Linked DNA regions of Homo sapiens: region 1 is linked to region 2. Evidence: fine-mapped expression QTL. A gene starts in region 2. The other region holds a variant in brackets. All regions are shown on one strand. Distances are from middle to middle. Region 1 holds the start of LZTS2 (leucine zipper tumor suppressor 2). Region 2 holds the start of SEMA4G (semaphorin 4G).

The links. PIP is the estimated chance that this variant, and not a neighbour inherited with it, causes the effect. A credible set is the group of variants that fine-mapping cannot tell apart.
Region 1: its variant is the best candidate, but not a certain one, in a credible set for the expression of SEMA4G in lung (TOPMed, PIP 0.68).

Annotation. Positions count from the first base shown.
Region 1 is chr10:100,994,400-101,005,585 of GRCh38, reverse strand. LZTS2 (leucine zipper tumor suppressor 2) reads right to left here and starts at 5,778. Exons shown (of 5, transcript NM_001318100.2): 1 at 5,634-5,778; 2 at 2,640-3,089; 3 at 1,420-2,079; 4 at 1-128. The coding sequence starts at 3,047. TWNK (twinkle mtDNA helicase) reads right to left here. Exons shown (of 5, transcript NM_021830.5): 5 at 11,183-11,186. RefSeq lists silencers at 5,637-6,016, 6,117-6,526, 8,317-8,606 and enhancers at 8,757-8,886, 8,690-9,559. The variant T/G (reference allele first, on the strand shown) is at 5,587.
Region 2 is chr10:100,963,821-100,975,006 of GRCh38, reverse strand. It overlaps SEMA4G (semaphorin 4G), which reads right to left and starts at 5,503. Exons shown (of 15, transcript NM_017893.4): 1 at 5,416-5,503; 2 at 1,971-2,478; 3 at 1,730-1,878; 4 at 1,398-1,460. The coding sequence starts at 2,094. It overlaps SLF2 (SMC5/6 complex localization factor 2), which reads right to left. Exons shown (of 20, transcript NM_018121.4): 20 at 9,873-11,186. MIR608 (microRNA 608) reads right to left here and starts at 22; the gene lies at 1-22. RefSeq lists silencers at 5,487-5,546, 8,881-9,175.

The sequences.
Region 1 (11,186 bases), 31 kb before region 2:
TGCTGCAGCTGGAACACCTGCAGCTGCAGCAGCTGTTGGGCCCGCTGTGCCCGCTGTGCCTGGGCCGCACAGTCCTCTCGCAGGGCCTCACGCTCTCGCTGCCAGTGCCGCTGCCGCTCCTCGTATGCCTGCAGGCGAGAAGAGAGACCTGGCTCCTGGGCAGTTTTCCCAACTCCCCACTCAGTGTCTGCTCTGGCAGCCCACTTCCGAGGGCTCAGGAAGGGTGGATTCCATTAAACAACAATAGTAATTGCAACAACAATACTAACTGCTTTTATGATGATCATAGAAACAAACACAAGAGCAAGCAGACCGGGCTCGGTGGCTCACGCGAGGTGGGTGGATCACTTAAGCTCCGGAGTTCGAGACCAGCCTAGGCAACACAGCAAAACCCTGCCTCTCCAAAGACCAAAAATTAGCTTGGTGTGGTGGCATGCGCCTGTAGTCTCAGCTACTTGGGAGGCTGGGGTGAGAGGACTGCTTGAGCCCAGGGGGTTGAGGCTACAGGGAGCTGAAATCACGCCACTGCTCTCTAGCCTGGGTGACAGAATGAGACCTTGTCTCAAAAAATAAAAAAAGCAAGCACTTGGCCGGGTGCAGTGGCTCACGCCTGTAATCCCAGCACTTTGGGAGGCCGAGGCAGGTGAATCACTTGAGGCCAGGGGTTCGCGACCAGCTTGGCCAACATGGTGGAAACCCTGTCTCTACTAAAAATAAAAAATAATAAAAAATTTTAAAAAAGGCAAGCATTTATATAGCACTTCCTAGGTACCAGGCATTAGTCTAATCACTTTACACCTTTTGCCTTATTTAATCCTCATAATAATCCTACGAAGCTAGAAATATCCCTATATAGATGAAGAAATAAAGGCTGAGTAAAGTTAAGCAACTTGCTCAAGCCCAAAAACTAGTATTTGGCAGTGGGAGGTTTGAATCCATGCACTCTGACTCCTTTCCACCCCACAAGTTTTGTTTTTTGTTTTGAGATAGAGTCTTGCTCTGTCGCCCAGGCTGGAGTGCAATGGTGGAATGTCAGTCCATTGTAACCTCCTCCTCCTGGGCTCCAGTGATCCGCCCACCTCAGCCTCCCAAGTAGCTGGGACTACAGGTACATGCCACCACACTTAGCTAATTTATTTTTAGTAGAAATGGGGTTTCCCCATGTTACCCAGGTTGGTCTCAAACTCCCGAGCTCAAGCAATCCGCCCACCTCGGCCTCCCAAAGTGCTGGGATTACAGATGTGAGCCACCACACCTGGCTACTCCACACATTAAACCAGACAACTGGTGGGGAGGGCAGGGGGGTCACAACTACAACTACCCAACCCCCGTTCCCTGCCAAAATGGAAATGCCGCTTGCATCCCAGGGCCTTGGGATGTCCTGCCATGCCCCTTCCCCATCATTGCCTCTGACCACACCTGGCACATGGTAGCCTCATTCTCGTCCAGACTGTCCCGCAGCTGCTGAAGCTCTGCCTCCCGGTCTCGGAGCTTTCCTTCCAGGACACAGTGCAGCAGGGCCTCATCCGAAGGAGGTGGAGGCGGGGGTGGTGGTGAGCGCTCCCCACAGGAGCTGCTGTCAGGGGAGGCCCGAGTACCACTGCCCAAAAGCCCCCCAGCCACACGGCCCCCTAGGGAGCCTGTGCTCTTGCTGGAGGAGGACCGGCCACTGTCTGAGTGGGAGGGCCCAGTAGGGACCCCTCGGGCTGGCCCAGGCAGTGCCCCTCGCCCAGAGCCATGGGAAGGCAGGTGCCCGCCTGGGGAGCTGGTGGTTGGCTCGGCACCTCCGGTGCTGTAGGTGGGCAGGCTGGACAGTGAGTTTCGGCCAGAGTCGGATAGCGTCCCTGATGGGCAGCCACTGGCCCAGCCACTAAATGCCAGGGGTTTGTCAGCAGCTGAAGAGGAGGAGGAAGAGGAGGAGGAGGAGGCAGGGCCCCCAAACAGCTGCGTCAGGCTGCCCTGGCTCCCAGACAGCCCGGTGGCCCGAGGACCCATGAAGCTAGGCAGGGACGGAGCCCCTCGAGGTTTGGGCAGCACTGGCTTGAAGGCTGTTGGGCGGATCAGGATCTTCTCCATGTTCTGAAATGAGGTGCCATGTGACACTGGAGATGAGCTGCCCAATCTTGCAGAGCCCTTATGACACTCCCTGCCCTCCCGTCTTGGGTCCCCAGTGCCCATATATTCATAACAATTGCGGCCACTGGTGGAGGTGGCCACCAGTGTCAGCTTTGTGTCAAGCAATTTGAAAAGTTTATCTCCATTATCTAAATATGATCACTATCCCCATATTACAGATGAGGAAATGGAGGCTCAGCAAGGTTAAAGGCCTTGCCCAAAGTCAAACGTATAACTGGTGCAGAATAACCAGAACGTAAGCAACTAGCACTTACTGCGTACATGCTACGTGCTAGGCACTATGCTATACATTATTTGACCTTCATGTCAGTTCTAGAAACTGAGGCTCAGGTTAAGTGACTTCCCTGAGGTCACACATCCAGAATGAGAGAGAGCTGGGATTAGGACCCAGGTCTGGTGAATCTGGAGCCCACACTCTTTCCTCTATATAAGCTTCTAAATTCCAGTTTCCCAAGCGAGGACTCCCGTTCTACCCAGGCCCACAAGGAAGAGCCGGTCCTCACCTTCTCCAGCTTTCCAGAGACAGGGATGAGCTTTGGTGGTGGGCCGCGGAGGTGGGCATTGTGTGCCCGCTGCTCTCGGGCATCCTCAACATCACTGCTTGGGCTGGGGGGTGACTCTGTCCGGAAGTCCTCATTGATGTAGGTGAAGCTGGTGACAGGGACAGCCTTCCTAGGGGGCACAGCTGGGCACAGCGGCTCCTGTGCCTCATAGCCACCCCGTAGCAGGCCATCCTGCTGGCGGAAGAAGGTGGGCCCAGGAGGGCCGTGGTGGCGGGGAGGAGCTGGCCCCCCGGGACAGGGCCGGCCTGAGATAAGGCTGCTCACACTACCCATGACTGGAGCTTGTGGGGCAGTGGCAGCTTCAGGAGCAGGCTCCAGTGGCACTGGCAGAGTCTGCACAATGGCCATGGTGGCAGAGGCTCAGGCCTGGCCAGCGGCCTCGCAGGCGACCTGTAAGCAGGGCAGTGGTGTCAGAGTCCCTCCACCTTGAGACCCCTCCTGACCCACTGATCCTGACCAAACACCTCCTTGACATCAGTAACAAGCCCTGATCCCCACCAAGACTCCCCCTTCAAGTGCTGGAATGAATCTCAATTCCCCCTGGGCCCCAAACCACACTGCCCAATGCTGGTCTGAACAGGGCTGAGGAGTGAATTCACTCAGCAGAGATGCTGAGAGGCATGGGAGGCCTGGATGATTACCGCAGGGCCACCTGGCAGCAAAGACCCAGGCCCAAGCCCAATCCTGCATCCTCCACAGAGGCCAGGACTCAGGTGAGGGAGGGGCCTTCTCTACCAGCTTGAAGCACAGGTCCCTGGTCCTCTCAGCCAGGTGGCCTCATTACAGGGCAGTTTGGGCAGAGGTACCTCAGGGGTGCAATCAGCACCTCAGATGGTAATTAGGGAACAAAGAGCCAAGGCCAGGCAGTGCCCTGCCTCCCTCTGCTGGGCCTCAGTTTCTCTCAGACAGAAAGGCGGCTAAACTGCCTCTCTGTCGATCTGGCTAAATAAGAAACCCGCGGCTCTTAGGGAGTCCACAGGTGTCCTTTGGGGTCTCCTGCCTCCCAGAGGTGGATGCAGGCTCATACCAGTTTCCATGACAACTCCTAGCCTCTGCACACCCAATCGGTGAGGCCTGAAGGCCTGAAGGAGCCTCCACAGGCTCTGCCCCACTGCCAACCTCTCTGAAACCCTACAGCTTCAGAAGGTCCCCAAACTAACCCTGAGGGGAGGAAGGTAGATGCCCTGCCTTCACCTCTGGAGGCTGCTCCAAAACCTCACTTCCACAGAGCCCAGGCAAGAGGGCTCCACCTCCCCAGGCTCTGCTCCTTCCTGGAAGCAGCTGCAAGCCTCCACCCGGAACCCCCTCCCTAGTCCCAGTCCCGAGGCCGCTGATGACCAGGACTTAGGCATCTGCTGAAGTCATCATGCAGAGCGGGGCCAAGAAGTGGACAGAGAATTGCACTGGGAGTAGGAGTGTGTGCATTTAGTTATTTGTTGTGTGACTACATGCACAGGAGCATGAAAATGAACACGTGTGTATGAAAATGTGTGTGAAAACATCATGTGAGTCTATGCATGTTTGATATATCAGTTCATTCACATACATATGAGTTCATGTGTGAATTCACATGTGTATATCTTAGAAGAGTATGTGGATCAGGGGTCATTAGAAAGCCTGTGAAAGTTATAAATGTGGATCTAACAAGTGAATTTGTGGTGTGTGGGAGAGACGGTGCCTGGACAGACTTGTCAGTAAGTTCATGAGTTTATGTGTGAGCTCCTGTGTTTGTGTGTGACTAGGAAGGTGAGTGGTGCAGTGGAGCCTGTGAACGTGGGCACGCAGGTATGAGAGTGGTGGGAGCCTGGGTGGCTTGAGGGCCCATTGGTGGGGGGAGCCTGTTTCCTTCTCTCTTCGGCGTGTGGGGAGAGGTGGGACATTATCTAACTCCTTTGCCTGATCTGTTCCCCTTCTTTCTCGCATGCCCTCCATTAAATCCACCGCCCTCCTTCCCACCCAAGTCAAAAGACACTGCGAACCAGGAAGAGGTGTCCACGCTGGGGCAGGAGCTGCGGGGAGCTGGGGGAGGGGTAGGCCAGGAGCAGGGAGTGACCACAGGCCCCTCTGTAGGGCTGGGGCTCAGACCACCCCACACACCCCAGCCCCCAGCAGAGCAGATAGAGAACCCCCTCCCCTCCCCTCTCTGGGCCCACTCCAGGGTGTGGAGTGAACAGTGGGGAAGGGACTTCTTAGGGGGCCAAGGGGGCTGGCACCTCTGTTGCATTTCCCCACTTCAGCGAGCACGGAGAAAGTGAAAATTGAAGGAAGGAGACAGGCTCAGAGAAAGACAGGGACCCAAAAGAGACAAAGACTCGGAGAGGCCCGAGGGTCAGGCCGACAAGGGGACAGCCAGCGGGACCCAGTGAGCCAGGGCCCCCCAACCCCACGGAGCCGAGGGCCCATAAGTCCAAAGTGCCACAGAGCCGGGCCCTGAGAGCCACACATCCAGGGAGCCAGAGCCAGGAGTCTGGAAAGCCAGGCCCAGCCAGGCCGGCTCCCGCTCTTGGAGCCCGAAAGAGAAGGAGGGGCAAGTGGAGGCTCCATTTTGAGAAATGCGTTTGTGGCTGTGGGAGATGGGAACCCCTCATTCTCCCCAGCACTCCCTGAGCAATCACTCTGGCCCAGGAGCACCCCCCTTTTAGTGGGCTGAGGAGAGCAGAGGGCTGGAGCTGGTTCAGGGCCGGAGACGGATCTGAAGAGTTGGGGAAAGTCTCCCTCCCACCCAAACTCCAAGGACCAGTCAAGCGGGGTCAAGTCTGCGATCACGAGTTCCCATTCTGCGGCGGGAAGCCAGGAGCCCCTGACCCATTCTCCAGAGTCCAGCCCCCCTTCCAGAAAGTGGGGGCGACTGGGGAACGCCGTCCCCCCGGCTGGATTCCACCGCGCA[T/G]AAGTTGGGGGCTCCCCAGGCCGCCTCCCAGACCCGGCCCCCCTCACCTCCGCCGCGCTGCTCCATGCTCAGCCCCAGGCCGCCCCCAGCGCTCCACAGGCGCGCCGCCCGGCCCCGGCTCCGGCTCCGGCCCCGGCCCCGGCCCCGGCCCTGGCCCGCGCGCCGCCACTCGGAGCTGCCCGGCCCAGCCCCGCCTCCGCCTCCGCGGCGCCCCCGGCCCTGGCCAGCCCCCGCCCGGTGCGAGTGGGCGGCACCGCGCAGGGGAGGGTCCGAGGGGCGTCTCCGCCCCGGGGCGCGGACACGCGCAAGCACCCGCGTCACGCGAATCCGCCGGGGCGCACGTAGGGGCTGCTCGGCGGCAGTCGGGAGCCCTCCCTCCGACGCCCTGTGACTGCGTGTCTGGGGGCTCGGTTCGGCTCGACGCGGCGGCGGCGGTGGTCACCCTCAACCCCAGCCGGGGCCCCGGGGCCAGCGGCAGCTGGTCATTGTTCCAGCACAAAGGGCCACGGCGCGGCGGCGGCCGCCCCTCCCCCTCCGCTTCTCCAGGCGAAGCTTCCCTGACACGCTCTCAGCCTCAGAGTCCCAAGCGAGAGGCCGATGGCCGGCCGTCCCCCACTCTCCGGTGCCGGGACCCCGCGCCCTAGCCCGAGTAGGAGGCCGAGGCTCGATCCGCGCCTGCCCCACGGCGGGTTGGAGGCGGCAACCTGGGCTTCGCGGAGGCGACGCCACCTGGCGGCCGGCTCGGAGAACACACCCAGCCGCCCCCAACACGCGGGCCCTGCCCCACTCCCCGGCACGGTGCCCTTTTCCCCGCGAACCCAGGCCGGCCTCTGGCGCGACCGCGTGCTCCCCAGCCTCCCCTCGGGATCACTTGCTAAGAGAGAGGTCATTTATCGGAGAGGAGCGGCCCCTGGCTCCCCAACAATCACTGGGGCGAACCGGTGCAAGCCTACAGCCCAAACCTACACCAGCCTCACGGCAGACAATATTCCACTTCCTCAGGGTCAAGTAGTCTCACCTTCTCGCACACAATACAGTCTCCCTAACACCCACAAGACCTTTCCCACATGCAGCCGCAGTCTCAGCCGTCACGTGGGTCCGCGTTCCTTCTTTCCATAATCTTCCAGTCCACCTCACACACAGACACGGTGTCACAGGCCTGTTGGGCACAGGCTTCCACAACAATCCGCAGTCCTTCGCACCCAGTCACAGTCTCAAGTGCACTTAGTCTCCTAACCATCTTTCACGCATTGACAGCCTCTATTCACAGTCACTCACACAGACAACTTCTTACACGCCGTGCTTCACAAATATTCTACCGCACAGCCTTTCCCCTAGGGGTCTCGGTGACCCGGTCAGGTCAGCTGATGCCTGCATCCCTGGGCAAAGGCAGCCTTTCTCCCCTAACCACCCCCTCCCCCGCAGGGCCAAGGCCTGCCGGAGCTCGCCCGGGCCCCAGGAAGGAGCATCCCCCCCTTCCAGGCCACAGCCCTGGCCGGCTCTCAGCTCTATTTTTAGCTCCATGGACAGGGTTGTTTTTCTTTCTTTTTCCCTGGAAAGGGAAACACAGCCCAGCCACCCTGACTCACCCCAGACCCTCAGCCTCACAAGAACAGACTGAGCCCCTCTCCCCAGCAGAGCCCCCTCCTCTGGCCTTGCCCTGATCCCTGCCTCCTGGGGCACCGAGAGCCTCCTCCTCTTTCTGGCAGCCTGCCCAGCTCAGGCGGCAGCTGGGCTCAGCGTGTGTGTAGGGGTAGGGGGTGGGGCGAGGAGGAGGCATCGGGCTACTGCCCACTCCCTCATTCCCTGGGGGGAGGGGCTCGTCCTCCTTTTTCTAGGGGGGCAGGCCCACTCTGGTATTGAGGGAGCGTTTACACTCATGCATTTTCTGGGGGGAGGAGACTCCGACTCCCGCAAGGAGTGGAGGTGAGGGTAGGAAGGGGACCCGCAGGCGCTCAGGCAGCTGCTCTCTGGGCTGGCGGTAACAGGCGGGGGCAGCTGTCCACTGCCATCAAGGGCCTGTCTCCGAAACCTTCAGGGATGCAGACACCAAGAATGTGCTGGGGAGAAGGACGTCCAGGAGCCCGAGTTAACCCCAGCCCTGCCCAGCAGCCGGGCCCTCCTGCTCCGCCCCGGCTCCAGGGGGCGCTGTGCTCCGGTTCCCGGGAGAGGGCTTATCCCCGCTCCAGGCGGAGAATGGAACGCCGTCCGGCCTGGGACCAAGCAAACGCGCCCCGGACTAGGGTGGATTTCCGCCCCGTGGTTGGGTTGGGGGCACAGGCCACTGGTCTGCGGAGCTGTCACGTGCTCGGCGTCTGTTTACGTCTTGGTCTTCACCTGCGGGAGGCCAGGAAGCAGGAACCTCCGGGTGCGTCCCACCCGGCCCGCCCCCGTCGGTAGTCACAGGGCTGCCCCTTTCCCGCACCCAATACGCGACCGCAGAGTGCCCTGCCCGCTGTGGGTCCGCGCGGGCCGGCTGGCGCTGTCCCTGGGAGTGCAAGGGTGGCCAACTGGGCGCGTCCTTTCCGAGTGCATGTGTGTTCGCGTGTCCCAAGTGCGGGCGTGGGTCTGTGCACGCGTGTGTGGGGCCCGTCGGCGTGCGTTTTCGTGTCACTTCCCTGTTCGGACTCTTCGCGGGGACCCCACCAAGTGCGGACCCCCCTCCTCACCCCAACCCCTAGCTTCCCTAGAAGCGGAAAGTTCGTTCAGGAGCGGGGATGAGCGGGAGGCGGGAGTTCCTGCACCTCCGCCGCCCCACCACTCACCCAGCGCCACCTGCGCCTCGGCTCCAGTTCCGGCCCCGCTCCTGCTCCAGCGCGCCCACCTCCTCGCCGCGACAACGCCGGCTCCCTAGCCGGCTCCGAACTCTAGGTTCCGAACTCTGGGCTCCCGGCTCCCAGCTCCCGGCGCCCGCCTGGCCCGACCTGGTGGAGCGGGGCGGGGCGGGGCGGCTCAGGCCGCGCCCCCCACCCAGGGAGGGGAGTGGTCTGCCCCGCACTCCACCAGCAGCCGACCCAGTGCCCAGCCTAAGAGTGACTCGACGGTGGCCGAGGCTGCCCCTCTGGCCTCTGACTTCACAGCTTACTGGATTTGGTTTTTGACCTGGGGAAGGGGGCGAGCATCACGTGACCGAGAATTCGGCTACCTGGCTGCCTTAAACTAAGCTTAAACTAAGAGCTTGACTCTGCCACCCTCCCTGCTCCGATGGGAGCCCAACCCGGTCCACTCTTGGCCCAATCCCCAAATACAGGGACAACCCCTGGGAAGCAGACAAAGAAGGCTCAAGTTTCACCAGAGCAGCTCCCACCTACCCCTACCACGCACACACCTCAGCGTGGGGCTGCCCAGGCAGAACCAGCACAGCCCCCTCCCTAGAGTAGGTATCTGCCCAGGTGAGCAGGCCTGCGGGTTCTGACCCCCACGGGGCATGGCTGGGCTTCTCGAAGACTCATAAAGTCCCACCCACAGGCACAAACAGGAAGTTGGCCTGTATTGCAGGGAGGCCCCAAGGGCTCCCTCCCACCATGGCACTCAAGGCAGCATGTAGGAAGGTCTACAGGTATCTGGCCCATATGGGCTACAGGAGACCTCGGTGAGTTGTTTTTTGAGACGGAGTCTCGCTCTGTCGCCCAGAATGCAGCGGCACGATCTTGGCTCATTGCAACTTCCGCTTCCCAGGTTCAAGCGATTCTCCTGCCTCAGCCTCCAGAGCAGCTGGGACTAGAGGCGCGCACCACCACGCCCGGCTAATTTTTGTATTTTTAGTAGAGACGGGGTTTCACCATATTGGCCAGGCTGGTCTCAAACTCCTGACCTCGTGATCCACCCGCCTCGGCCTCCAAAAGTGCTGGGATTACAGGCGTAAGCCACCGCACCCGGCCGAGTTGTTTCTTCTTAAACCCATCCACAGCAGAGAGGAAGCTGCCAGAGGACCAAAGCTGTCCCCTCATGGCCAAGTGTGACATACATTATCAATTAGAGGACAAGGCTGTAGATCCAACTGGACCTGGCTTAGCCAGGCCTTTCCTGAGATCTCAGGGAAATTTTTTTTTTTTCCTCCCAATCCACCGAACCTGTGAGTCAGGGAGATTCTTAACATCCAGTTGGGTGTAGACAGACCAGTCCTATCCCAGGGAATCCGCACAGGCCCTAGGGACCCCCCACTGCTTTCTAGAATCCAGGGATCTGAACAGACTGGGTGGAATCATGATATGGGGTATTTAAGGCAGGTATGGAATAGAACGTGTTTGTGCAGCGGGTAGGGCTGGGGGGAGTATTAGCTTCCCCTCCCCCTCATCATTCTGGTTTGTGCTGTGTGGGGGTGTCTGCTAGAAGGGTGGGGCAAGACAAACAGCCAAGTCTGTATCTATCCCTCTATCCCCAGTTCACAGAGACCTCACAAAGGTCCCCTACTGGAAACCCCTAAAAGATCTCCTGAGAACCCACCAGGCATTCTAGGGAGACAGGAATGTGGAACCCACATCCTTACAGGTATGACTGATATGGTATTGTGCCTCTGGAAGGCATGGCTGCCGTTCAGCGTTACAGACTCTGGATGAGGCCTAGACCAGCCAACGGCTGGGAATGATTACTGCGGGATTAGGGAGGCCTGGCTCCAGCCAGTCTGGGAGAGACCCCCAAGAAGGGAGGCCCTGGAGGAGCTCTCCCCACCCCCCCAGGTTCTTCCTCACAGAGAGCAGCTTTCCAGCAGCCTTGCTCCGGATGTTTCAGGAGACATTTGTGACCAGAGTTCTCACACTCCAGAGACCACAGACCCCTCCATCGGCCCCAGAAGCCCCTTCATAGGTTGAAAGGAAGAGCCTGACAAGGCAGCCCTGCTTCCAAACGGAGCAGGAAACCTTCCCCCAACCCTTACAAAAGGATTCTCCCCAGCCCCCTCAGAACATATTGCATTCTCACGACTCTTTCAGGCAAATCCAAAGGGAAACTGGGACTTTGGGATATCAGAGGACGAGAGATGAGAAGGTGTCATCATTTAGGAATACTTCTGACAGTCCCTCTGGGTCACCTATTTTACAGTCTCCTCCACGGCTTGTTAAAAATGAGGATTACTGTACCCGTCCTCAAATCCAGAATGAGAAATGTACGTGGTGGAGGATGGGGGGAGAATGGGGCCTAGTTTCTGCATTTTTCACAAGTCCCCAGGAGTTCTGGCACGCATTAGCATATGAGAAACACGGAGAGGGTACAGGAGGGAGATGGATGGGGGTGGACAGAATATGTTGAGTCTAAGTCCACTTGAGAGGTGAGTGGCTCACATCACAGAGGAATGGCCAGTCAGGCAGGGCACTGGGCTCATGTGGCCCAGTGATGAGTACCTGTGCCAGGAATCACTCGAGATCCTCAGGGAAGTTAGGTATGAGGACAGATCATCTTGTCTTCCCTAGGCCAAGAAGAGATGTAAATGGAAGGTGGGGTGTGAAGGCCCTTTAATGTCCCTGCTTCCTTGGAAGCCCACCGCTCAAAGGCTGCAAGCAGTGGGAGGGGACCCGTCCATTCCCAATCCCGAAAGGGAAATTCAGCTACGGACTGGGGAGACACCTGGTGGATGAATAAGAAAAAGCACAGAAACAAAGGCA
Region 2 (11,186 bases):
CACCCCTGGCCCACCTTGGCCCAGTGGATCTTGGGAATTTTTTTTTAATTATTTTTTATTAGAGATAGAGTCTCATTATATTGTCCAGGCTGGCCTCGAACTCCTGGGCTCAAGTGATCCTCCTGCCTTGGCCTCCCAAAGTGTTGAGATTACAAGTGTGACCCACCATGCCCAGCCCAGGGCCGTTTATTTTGTAAAAGCTCTCCAGATGGAGCCATTACCTAGCCAGACATGGGACCCCTGGAGACACCCTATTCTTTAGCTGGAAAGGGCTGATGCTTCATTAATGCCTGTCCATGGAATACTGGGTATTTGACCTATTCCTTGACCAAAGACTCATTTTTCTCATCTGCAAAATGCAGGATAATACTATTTCATAGGGTTATTTTAGAATTAACTGAGATAATAGCTAAATCATCACTTGCTGTAGATAGTTGCTGACTTAACAATGGTTCAATTTATTATGATGGTTTTATTGGTAAGTAACCCATCGTAAGTAAGCATCTGTAGAGGTTACTTACTGTTTTTTGTTGGTTTGTTTTTTTGAGACAGGGTTTTGCTCTGTCATCCAGGCTGGAATGTGTGGCTTAATTATAGCTCACGCAGCCTCAACCTCCCAGGCCCAAGTGATACTCCCACTCAGCTTCCCAAGTAGCTGGGACTACAGGTGCACGCCAGCATACTTGGCTAATTTTTGTATTTTTTTTGTAGACAGATCTCGCTGTGTTGCCAAGGCTGATCTTGAACTCCTGGACTCAAGTTGTCCTCCTACCCTCAGCCTCCCAAAGTGTTGGGATTACAGATGTGAGCCACCGCGTTCAGCCTACTTATTGCCATTTTGATTATTTGGGATCCCAGAGGAGATGAAGATGCCACTGCGGGACAAACTAGTAGGCCACCAGATGGTTGAATTAGAAGTACTGTGCCCAGATGCCGGGGGCAATGGCTTACATCTGTAATCCCAGCACTTTGGGAGGCTAAGGTAGGGGGACTGCTTGAGGCCAGGAGTTCAAGACCAGCCTGGGCAACATAGCAAGACCCTGTTTCTACAAAAAATAAAACACTTAGCTGGGCGTGGCATGTGCCCGTGGTCCTAGCTACTCAGGAGGCTGAAGTGGAAGGATCCCCTGAGCCCAGGAGTTTAAGGCCACAGGGAGCTATGATCATGTCACTGTACTCCAACCTGGATGACAGAGTGAGATCCGACCTCAAAAAAAGAAAAAAAAAAAAATGCTGTGCCCATGGCTTGCCACTCTGGCAATACTTACAATGTTTACTGTGGTTGCTGAGATTGACTGGCAGGTCTGTACCTACCCATCTGTGTCCCCAACAATCCTGGCATCCCTGATTGAGGAAGAAGGGGAGGAAAGGAGCTGGGGACAGGGCAGACCACATACCTGGTTGTTTTTCCCTTTTTGATGACATTTGCTTTGCATCTCTGGGGAGGCTTCCCAGTGGATCTAGTGGAGGCAAAGGGAATAGGCTGATGCACTGACCCCAATACCTATTACTCATAGGACCAGGCAATAGGACCCCACAGAGTTGGGGAAATTGGGGTGGGGATCAATTTCAGGAGGAACACTGAATGCAAGGAACACCTGGGCTGGGAAGGGCAGTGCTGTCTGACCAGGGGGCTATGGAAGGCTGGCAGGGTTTTAAGGAAGTTGAGGTCCCAGGGAGCTGGATAAGCATAGAGACCCTCTGGGTGGTCCAGGTTCCAGGGCCTGACCTCTTTGTGAGCCCCATCTCCTATGTCGTTGGCACTGAGAGAGAACAGGGCACCTCGGGCTCCCACCAGCAGCCTTGCTGAGGCCTCCTCCAGCAGCAGTGTTGAGTAGTTCTGGGCTTGGCCCTTGAAGTGCCGGGTCCCAGAGAGCTCTGGGGAGAGCAGGAACAGTGAGCCCTAGTTCTGGGGTGCCTCCCCACCCCCAGCCCTGGCTTCTGCTGCCTTTTGAGGTTGAGGGTCTAACCTTCATAGGGTATGGTCATCCGAGGGGTGGCATCTAGTTCTCTAGACGGTCTCCGCAGTGAGGGTCCTGGGACTGCAGTTGCTGTGAGGATGCTGAGGAGGAGGGGCCAGAGCCTCCCCCACATCTTCCTGGGGAGGCCCAGACTAACAAGACCCCCAAAGGGAGCCAGAGTCACAGGTTGTGGGGGCGGGGAATGGGAAGCACAGTCACAGGGGTCAAAGTCCAAGGAAGTCACTTGGAAGGTCAGGGGTCATAAGGTCATAGGAGTCAAGGAATCATGGGGCCATGGGGGGTCCTGGAATCGGGGGGACATGGAGTCACAGGGTTGTGTGGCCATGGAATCCCCAGCTAAGAGGTCAGAAGGAGGGAGGGATCACATGCCTTTCTGCATCAAATGCAAACTCCATGGTGAGAGGGAGTTGTGAAGTTCTAGAGGGGTTGTAGGTTACTGATGGGGTCACCCTGCCCCCGACAGTAGAGCTAGTCCTGGTTTTCTGAGGTCCGTTTTCTGAAGAAAAAACGGGGAAAAAAAAGCCCTTTGATCTGTATGTGGGTGGAAGATGGATGGCGTTACCCAGACTTCAGGGGGCACTGAAAGAAGGAGGCCCAGCATCCACAGAACGCCCACGCCAGGATCGACTCACAATCATTCTGTCTATCGCTTTGCTCTGATGCAGGAGGCTGGGGTGGAACTTACCTTCCTTACAAGACCCTAGATGCCCACAACCCGAAACCCAAGGTCATGACCCTCTTCTGGCCAAGTCAGAAGCTCCACTAGGCCCTCAAGTCAAAGGAGCTGGGGTTCTTGGAGAGAATGCCTGCTTCTCCCAACAATGAGATGCAACTCGGTCAGCAGCTGCCCCTGCTGCCTGCGGGGGTGCCTTATGCAGGAGGGCCTAACCAGAGAGGTTTAATGGACCTTTGTTTATTTTGTCCTGCTTTCCCTTTGTTTTTTCTTTTCCCTGGCCTGAGAGCTCCCTCTGGAATTTCTCTTTAATTATAACTTCTTGGTATTCCTCTCCAAGGGGGTGCACATCTCTGCCCACGCCAGTCTGTATTGCACCCTCTGGCTAGGCATCCACACGTGTCCCTATCTGCAAGTAGGCATTCACAGGCATTGGGGTGGGTACCTAGGATCCCCCTGGTTGCACAGGTATAATGTCTGTGCAGAAGGCTGTAGTGTGCAAGGCCAGTTGAGACATAAGCAACGTGAAGAAGGTAAATGATGGGATCCCTGAGCCCTTGGCCCCTCCCGACACATCTTGGACCCTCCCTCAAGCCAACCAGTTGGGGATGGGATGGGGGTGGGTGGCAGGCCTCTCCCAACCCCTGTAACAGGCCTCCTAATCACCAAGGGGTTCCTTGAAGAGTTCCTGGGCTGGGTGAGGTGTGGAGAGACCTAATACATTCCATCTCATCAGCCACCCACAGGCAGGGCCAGAGGGTGCCACTGGTGCCTCCTCTCCCAGGTCAAATATTAACTATCTGGCCTTGGAAAGAGGGGAGGAATCAGGAACTGGCCAGAGGGATAACAGGAGCAATTATTCAAGAGGTAAAGGTCAGCACTGCAGGGGCAGAGCCCTGAGGGGTAGAGTCAAATATGAAAGGGAGAGAAGAGGATTCCCTGACCCTGAAAGGGCATAGGCTCCCTGTTTGGGATCTGGGACAGCAGGAAGCTTCAGGCAAGCCGGCCATGCCCCACCCCTCCCTGTGGAGGCACACCTGTTTACCTTTGGGACCTCCTATTTGCTCAGTGCAAAAGGCATGTGTGTGGGGAGCACTATGGCTAGGAGGAACATGCCCCAGGTTAGAGGAGCCACTCAGTGTGGTGCATGTCACACTTATAGTTTAAGAGTCACATGGGTGACTATTAGGAAGGTGATATACATGCACATGGGTGCACACACACACACACACACATGTTCACAAGGAGGACTGTGAACACGTGGATTCACAGGGGTCATTCACACATATACTCACAGGGAGTTTTGTGCACACATATGCTCATACAGAGGGCCACAGCCACAGGTAATCATACATATTCACATGTGACGTTGAATTTACATGCCCATCCATTCAGCAGGTCACACAGCCTCAGACATTGAGGAGAGATAAACCCACACATGTGGGTTTGTGTCAAGGACTGTGCACCTATTCAACAGGAGGGTCCTATACATACACATGTATGTGTAGGGACATGCACACAAACCCATTGATATAGTGGGCCAGGCAATCATGTTCACAGAAGGGTCAAGTACATGTGTGCTCACACGCAGTTCTTGAACACACAACTACATCCATGCAGAGACAAGCACACATGCATACAGGGGTCCAGTTTTTGCCATAGGCTTGGAGGCTGCCAGTGTCCACTGGGGTGAGATGCAGAGCAGAACCCTGCCTCTGTTCCTGAAAGTCCCAATTCTAAGGCCCAATTTCAAGTGTGTGTTTGTGTGTGGGGGTGGTGAGGGGGTTGTGTGTGTGTGTGTGTGTGGTGATGGGGGAGGCTTCTGACCTTGGATGGGCAGATGGGATGGGTGCATGAGTCAAGGCCGCTCTACAAGGGAGGGAATGGGAAAGTAACTCAGGCAGGAGGAGGCCCCTAGCTTCAGCAAAGATGGAATGGAACGCATAATTTAGTACTCCTCCACCCCTATGTATATTGCGGTTCTAAAGGTGGGAGACGGGCTGGAGCTCTCAGCCCCCACTTAACCTGTGGGAGGGGGCGGGGCTAAGTGGGCGGGGCGGAGCATATCACCCCTCCCTTCAGTGGCGAAGTACGGGTTTAAGGTCTCCAGTCCACGCCCCACACTCCACCCCAAGTTCCACAGTTCGGGTTCTTCCCCAGGGCCAGCCCCCTGAACTCTGATCACCTTTCCTCTATTAGATCTTGGGGTGGAGGGAACTGGGGAGGAGAGACCCTTCAAACAGGATCAATGGAGGATCAGCAGGCTCTCGACCTTCATCCCAGATGTCCACCTGCCTAGTGTAGGCGGTATTTCCCTCTGCCTAGTAGGATGGCGGTCTCTCCTGGCTTGAGAGAGCCCCTCCCCCGGGACCCCCTCCCTCCAACATCCTGGACAGTCCGCGGTCCTCTCCCTTCGTCAGGTCTAACCTCAGTCTCTACTGCTGCAGCTCGAGGACAAGCTCTCCTTCGATCCCGCCGGACGCCGGGAGACGTGACCCAGATCCTGGGGAACACTGTTCGCCACGCGGCCCCCTCCCCGCGCTGGTCCCCGACTCCGTGGTGGCCGGTTTGCACCCCGCGCAGCCCGAGGCCTGGCCCGCGCCCCTCTAGAGCCGTCATGCAGGACCGGGGGACTTGGTGGTGAGAAAGGCCTGGCCCAGCTTGGAGGGTAGAATGGACGTGGGGGAGGCCTTGCCCGACCCCCGGCCCGCAGCCCCAGGCTCACGCCAGGGCGCCGCCCGCACTCCTCGCCTTGCTCACCTTTGCGCTCGGATCCGGGGCCATAGAGACAGCGACGCGCGGCTCCGCGGCCCCACAGCACCAGCTGCGAGAGGAAGGGGCCGCGGCTGGAGGCGGGGCGGGGGGGGGGTGGTGGAGGCGGAGCCGGGGGTGGGGCGGGGTCCTGAAAGGCGGGGCCGACTGGGTGGGGTGAGGGGAAGGTCGCCACTCTCTTCTTTGCGCCCCCTACTCTAGCACAATAGAGGCGGTTTGAGGGCGAGGCTCACACACAGCCTTCGGCCATCGGGCGACCCCCCACCTCTAGGCGCTGCGGCCCTGAAATCGCCCCCTGGTGGTGGCCTCGCCACCCCGTGCACCCTCCACATGCTTATAGCCCGTCCTCTCCTCCGCTGTAACCCTAGGACCCCCCTGACTTGCCTACTGCTGGGGACGTGCAAACCTGTCCTGGCGTTGCGGGGTTGGGGGACCCTCTCGGAGGGCCTTCTGGCCTGTCCTCTAACCTGGACCTCACTCCCTGTGCTCCTGCCACCCGCTTCTGCTCTCGGCCTAGGGTGTGGAGGGAAGGCTACCCTAGGTGGCGACTGGACGTTAGGGAAGCTCTGAACACAAGGTAGGGGCTTGATTCCCAGCTTCAGGGGCTGTTCAGCTTGAGCTATGCGTGGGGGAGATGGGGTCAGGCCTGAAGGGGATAAAGTAACAGCCTGACCTGAAAGGCACACAGAAAATGCTTTTTCTGGATAAATAAGCCACAAGCGTTTGCACCTGTTCACTCACCAAATCTTAACCCTAACCTAGGCTCACCTCAGGGACTGGGTCATTCAAACACTTGCCTTCCCCTCCAGCTCATCTTGGGCACCATTCTTATCCAGAACTTAGAGTGCACCCTTCTAGGCAATCAAGTACCCTATCCTTCCCAGATTCAATCACCTTACCCAGCAGCAATCTAGGAAACCCCTCACAATCAACTCCCCAACTCCTTTAACTCAACTAGGATGGTCCTTCTGTGCAAACTTGGTTCCTGCCTCCTTTAATAGGTCACAGCCTATTAAAGTGAACTTAGCCCCTATAGTCCAAACAAAACCTGCATTCAGGCCCTGACCCAGCCTGGTCCTTCCTCCTCCATCCATGACAGTATTCATGTGGGCTCAAGAGATGGACCAAAATGATAAAGGCCACAGGAACATATGTGATTGACTCTTGCATGTGCCTAGGAGTCAGAACAGGATTCAAGTGGCACATTTAACTAAAGGAAACTTGGGAAAGGCTTCATCCTTCTTTCTGGATTCCCCAAAGCTCACAGTTTGGCACTGAATCATATACAATCTCGTAGTTTGGATGGCTGTGTGTGACTGCAGACTGCTAGACAGCAGGGCCCACATCACAGTTCCACCTCCCCCAACACTCTGCAAATAGGATGTGTGTGGCGGGGAGAGGGAAGGTAGCTGGGGAGAAACACAATAAAAAATGTACACACACTTTTACAAAGAATATCCTGCTTCATTTTTTATTTGTACCCTCATCCCATCCTGAGGAATTTATAGCCCCATTTTATGGATGGGGAAACAGGCTCTAAGACATTAAGTAACTTGCCTTGAAGTTCATTCTTGTGTTTATGGAGAGGACAATCAAGACTGGAAAAGTCTGAGAAGGAGGAAGCAGGGTAAGCCAGAAGGGGAAATACCATTGGCAAAGGTAGAAATGTTCAAGCTTATGCACAGGCTTGTGTTGGGGAACTAAGGAAGGGGCATGAAAGAGGGCAGTGAGTTTGATTTGATGAAATGGCTGGGGGGGGGGGGGGGGCGGGGAGGGGTTCCTAGTGGGAAATAAAAGGGAAAAGTCAGCTAGTAGTTTGAAAAAGACCACAGAAGAAAATCCTGAAAGAGATGATGGACTGAGTAAGGACGTCTGAGGTGGGAAGACCAGTCAAGGCAGGGCTAAGAAAGATAAATCTGCAGTCCTTATCAAAAAGTGGGTTGGTGGTAACAGTGGAGGCAGGGTAGGAAGACTGCTGGTCCTTCAGTAGCAGATAGGAGAGCAATTAAACTGTAGGGGCCCAGGGGGCTAAGAGGCACAGCTTCCCAAATGTTCACAGAACCTGCAGTGCTGACTTCAGATAGCTCTGGAGGTGGCGAGTAGGCCAGTGTGGTAGGCTCAGTATCACTCAACTTCACTTTATGAACCAAGCTTTGCTCCTCTGAGGTGCTGATGGCAAACTCAGACATTGTTAAATGAGCAAAATGTGTGATTTCAATGATCACTGGGCAGTTACTTCAGTACTTTTGATAGCAGACCACAATCCATTTCCTTCTGCTAGCCTCCCAGTAAAATCTCTAAACCTAATGAGAGTATCAGATGTAAAAGCAATTAATGGAGCTGCCCATAGGAAGCCCTTTTGATTGACAGTATGTCTCTCTGCAAATCCAGCTGGTAAAATAAGAACGGGGGAATACTGACAGACAGTGGAAAAGAAAACTGGAAATCAACTAAAGAAATTAACCCTAACCCAGCCATAAATCTGCATCCTGGGACACAGGCAGGTCATTCTTTGAACAGGCTGTCACTCATCCATAAGGTCACTACCCTGGCTGCTTCGCAGGGTGGCTGTGAGAGGATTCCATTTGGAAACCTTCTGGAGAACTTCACACACACAGAAAAGTATGAGTTTTGTTTTTGCTAGTCTATTTTCCCCAACTTTGCTGTAAGAAAGTGGCTGAGGGTAGTGCTGGCCGTCTTCAGCAGTGATTGTCAGCCACTTACACACCAGAGTTTAGCTCCACTTTGCACAGAACAGTTACTTACTGTAGCAGGGATCCTAGGTGAAGGGGGTGGGTATGAATTCCTGAAACTTGAGCAGGTTCCCTGAAGCAAGAGAACTCTGGCCTAGTCAAGTTGTCCTGCTTACTGTTCAATGTGGCAGCATTTCTGTTCCTGCTTTGCCATCTCCATCTCTGGTTTGCCCAGCACTTTCCCTTTAGGTGGTGTGGTCTTTATTTTGGCTATATATACAGCTGAGGTGCTTCTTCTGTAGGGGCTGTCACCAGTGCAACAATGCGGAAGTCTCACTATTCCACTGTGCCTCAGAAGCCTGTTTAGTTTTCCTCCCAGCCAGTCGTCTTGGAGTCAGACCCAAAGCTGGGCCTTCTGGTTTGCCCTCTCTTGACTCCAGCCTAGGGAATGGTTAGTAAGGGAAAGGGAGTGTCAGGACATTCCCACAAATGCTGGAAAACCACCACCCATCACCAATTTCTCAGCTTTAGCATGCTGGCTTTTAAAAAGTGAAAATTTTAATTAAAAAAAATCAGCAGAGATAGCTGGACAGAGAAGCTCCAGCTCCCGGTATCCAAAGAAATAGGGCACACTTACAACTATAATTTTTGGAGATATGGTTTGCTCAGATGTCAGTACACCCTGAGGTGTCTGCTTAAGATCAAATCTGTCATCAGAGAAACGCCTCGTTAGAGCAGCAAGCATTTGCTGAGTTCTTGCTATATGCCAGGCACTGTACTAGGCACTTTTCATGCATTAGCTCGCTTAGTCCTCACAAACCCTGAGGTAGACACCATTATTCAACAGATGAGGAAACAGTGAGTTTAAGTAATTTGGCAAAGATCAAAAGGCTAGTATGATGAATCTGGGATCTGAGGTCAGGCCTTGGGGCAAGGTCAAGGCCCTTAACTTGCATAAAGCTGTGCTGCCTGCCCTCTAGTAAGTACTTACGGCAATGTCTCTGCTTCTTCCTGGGCTGTCATCCCCTCATCCCTCCGCCCCACTGTCAGAGAAAAATGCTCCCATTTAGTCTCTTTCTAGCCAGCCTGTCAGAAGGCAGAAATACTGGCATGGTTTTGGAACTCAAGGCCTCTGACAATGCCAAGGCCTTCTATGAGCTCCAAAGTTCCTCCTATGAGGTTTCAACCTCTGCCTCCCAAGTTGGCATACCCAGATCTCTATCTGCTTGGCAGGTTGGAGGTGATCTCAAGCCCTGCTTCTGCATTGTACAGCTTCTTCTTTCTTGGTCCTGGGCTCAAGAACAAGGGAGTCAGGTTAAGGGTATTTGTTTCTAATTCTCTTTGCCCAAGAACAGAAAGTATTTTAACCTGGATACCAGGAGGTAAGATTCATGAGTTCTCTATGTTGTTCACCATCAAATCCTTACTGAATCCTAAAAAGAGTGCCTAGTATGTAGTTGAGACTCAATTGTTAGAATGAATGGTGGAATGAACATAGTGAATGAGGTAAGAATGAGATTACTGAATTCCTGATTGCAAAGTATACAGCAATTAACTGGGTTATATAAAAGTGAACTGTGTACAATGGTGGCTTTATGTTTTCCAGAAACAGGAGACATCAAGCTAAAAAACTGGACAATCCAAAGCAAGAAGAAATGTTTAAAAGCCAGGGGACTGGGGTGGGCTGAGGGAACAGGGCATTCCAGATAACTTAGCCTCCCCAACTCCCAAACAAATATTACCAAACACATGTTCAAACTGAGAAAAAGCAGTTTTAATAGCACACACACACACACATTCATAGGACTTTAACAAGATGTAGTATAAAATCTTTAAAAAAAAAAAAAAGGAAAGAAAAAAATCTGTATTTACTTCCTAAGAGCTGGTGGATTAACTGGCTGACAGGACTGCCCAGGAAAAACAAATGCACAGATAATGAGGTGCGCCGACACTGTTCATGAGTAAGGAATAACCATGGATCATGCTAACTGCTCTACGTGCCCCGCCGCCTGGACCCTACTGTTGCCTCCTTAGCGACAAACCACCACAGTCATCCCCTAATTCTCCAACTCAGTAGCTTGTTTAATGGGCTACCTCTTAAAATTTTCATTTTTAATTTAAAAATTACTCTTGGCTTAAAGACGCCACACATTATTACTGGCCAGTCCCCACCAATTATATTTGTTTTGATAAAAATAAAAATGCAAATACTCCAACTAAGCCTGGATGATAACACGCCATTTTGTATCTTTTACATTTGAGGAGATTTTTGTGAAGCTGAAAGCAAGCTACTATTTGCGCTTGAAAGCAGAAACAAAATGCAAACCTTCCAAAAGGTGACAAAGGCACCACTGCCATCAGGAGATAGAAAATGTACAAATGCTGTTACTTTACGGCTACATCAATGCATTTTGTGCATGGAGAGCCTCTTAATGTGATAAAACTAGTAGAATTATATTTTCAGTAACAAGAAAAGCAGTTAGAAAAGGCAAACAGTTACACACAAAAGCATAAACACTTACAAGTACCTTAATGTGCAGCTTGCAAGAAGGGTAATAAGTTTGCCATACATATCCATAAAATTAGACAAGGTGATTTTTGGCACAGTAATATTGCCAAACACACCACCACTCAGTGCAAGCTTCGTTTGCCAAGTCCCCAAAGTGGCCTGACATTCTCTGTGCAATGAACATTTCTCCCTCTCTACCATCCCATTCACCGGGCAATAGCAGCAGGAGGGAGACAAAGCATGGGGACTCAAGGGAGAAGTAAAATACTTGATTTGGAAGAAAAACCATGGGCTACTTGTGCTAAAAGAGAGTCACAAAGTTTTCATGAGAACCCAAATGCAAATACTGACTGGACTATGACCTGGAGTCTGAAGACCTCTACCAGAGTCATAAATACAAGGGCCTAAACTGAGGTCTGGCCATTTATTTTAGAGGGACCATGAAGTATTTTTTTTCTAAAGGAGAAATATAATTAAAAATAGAGATTTTTTTCTTATTGGAACTGTTAAATAAAAATGTATCAAAGTGGTTTTAAATTTGATGGACAGTTATCTGT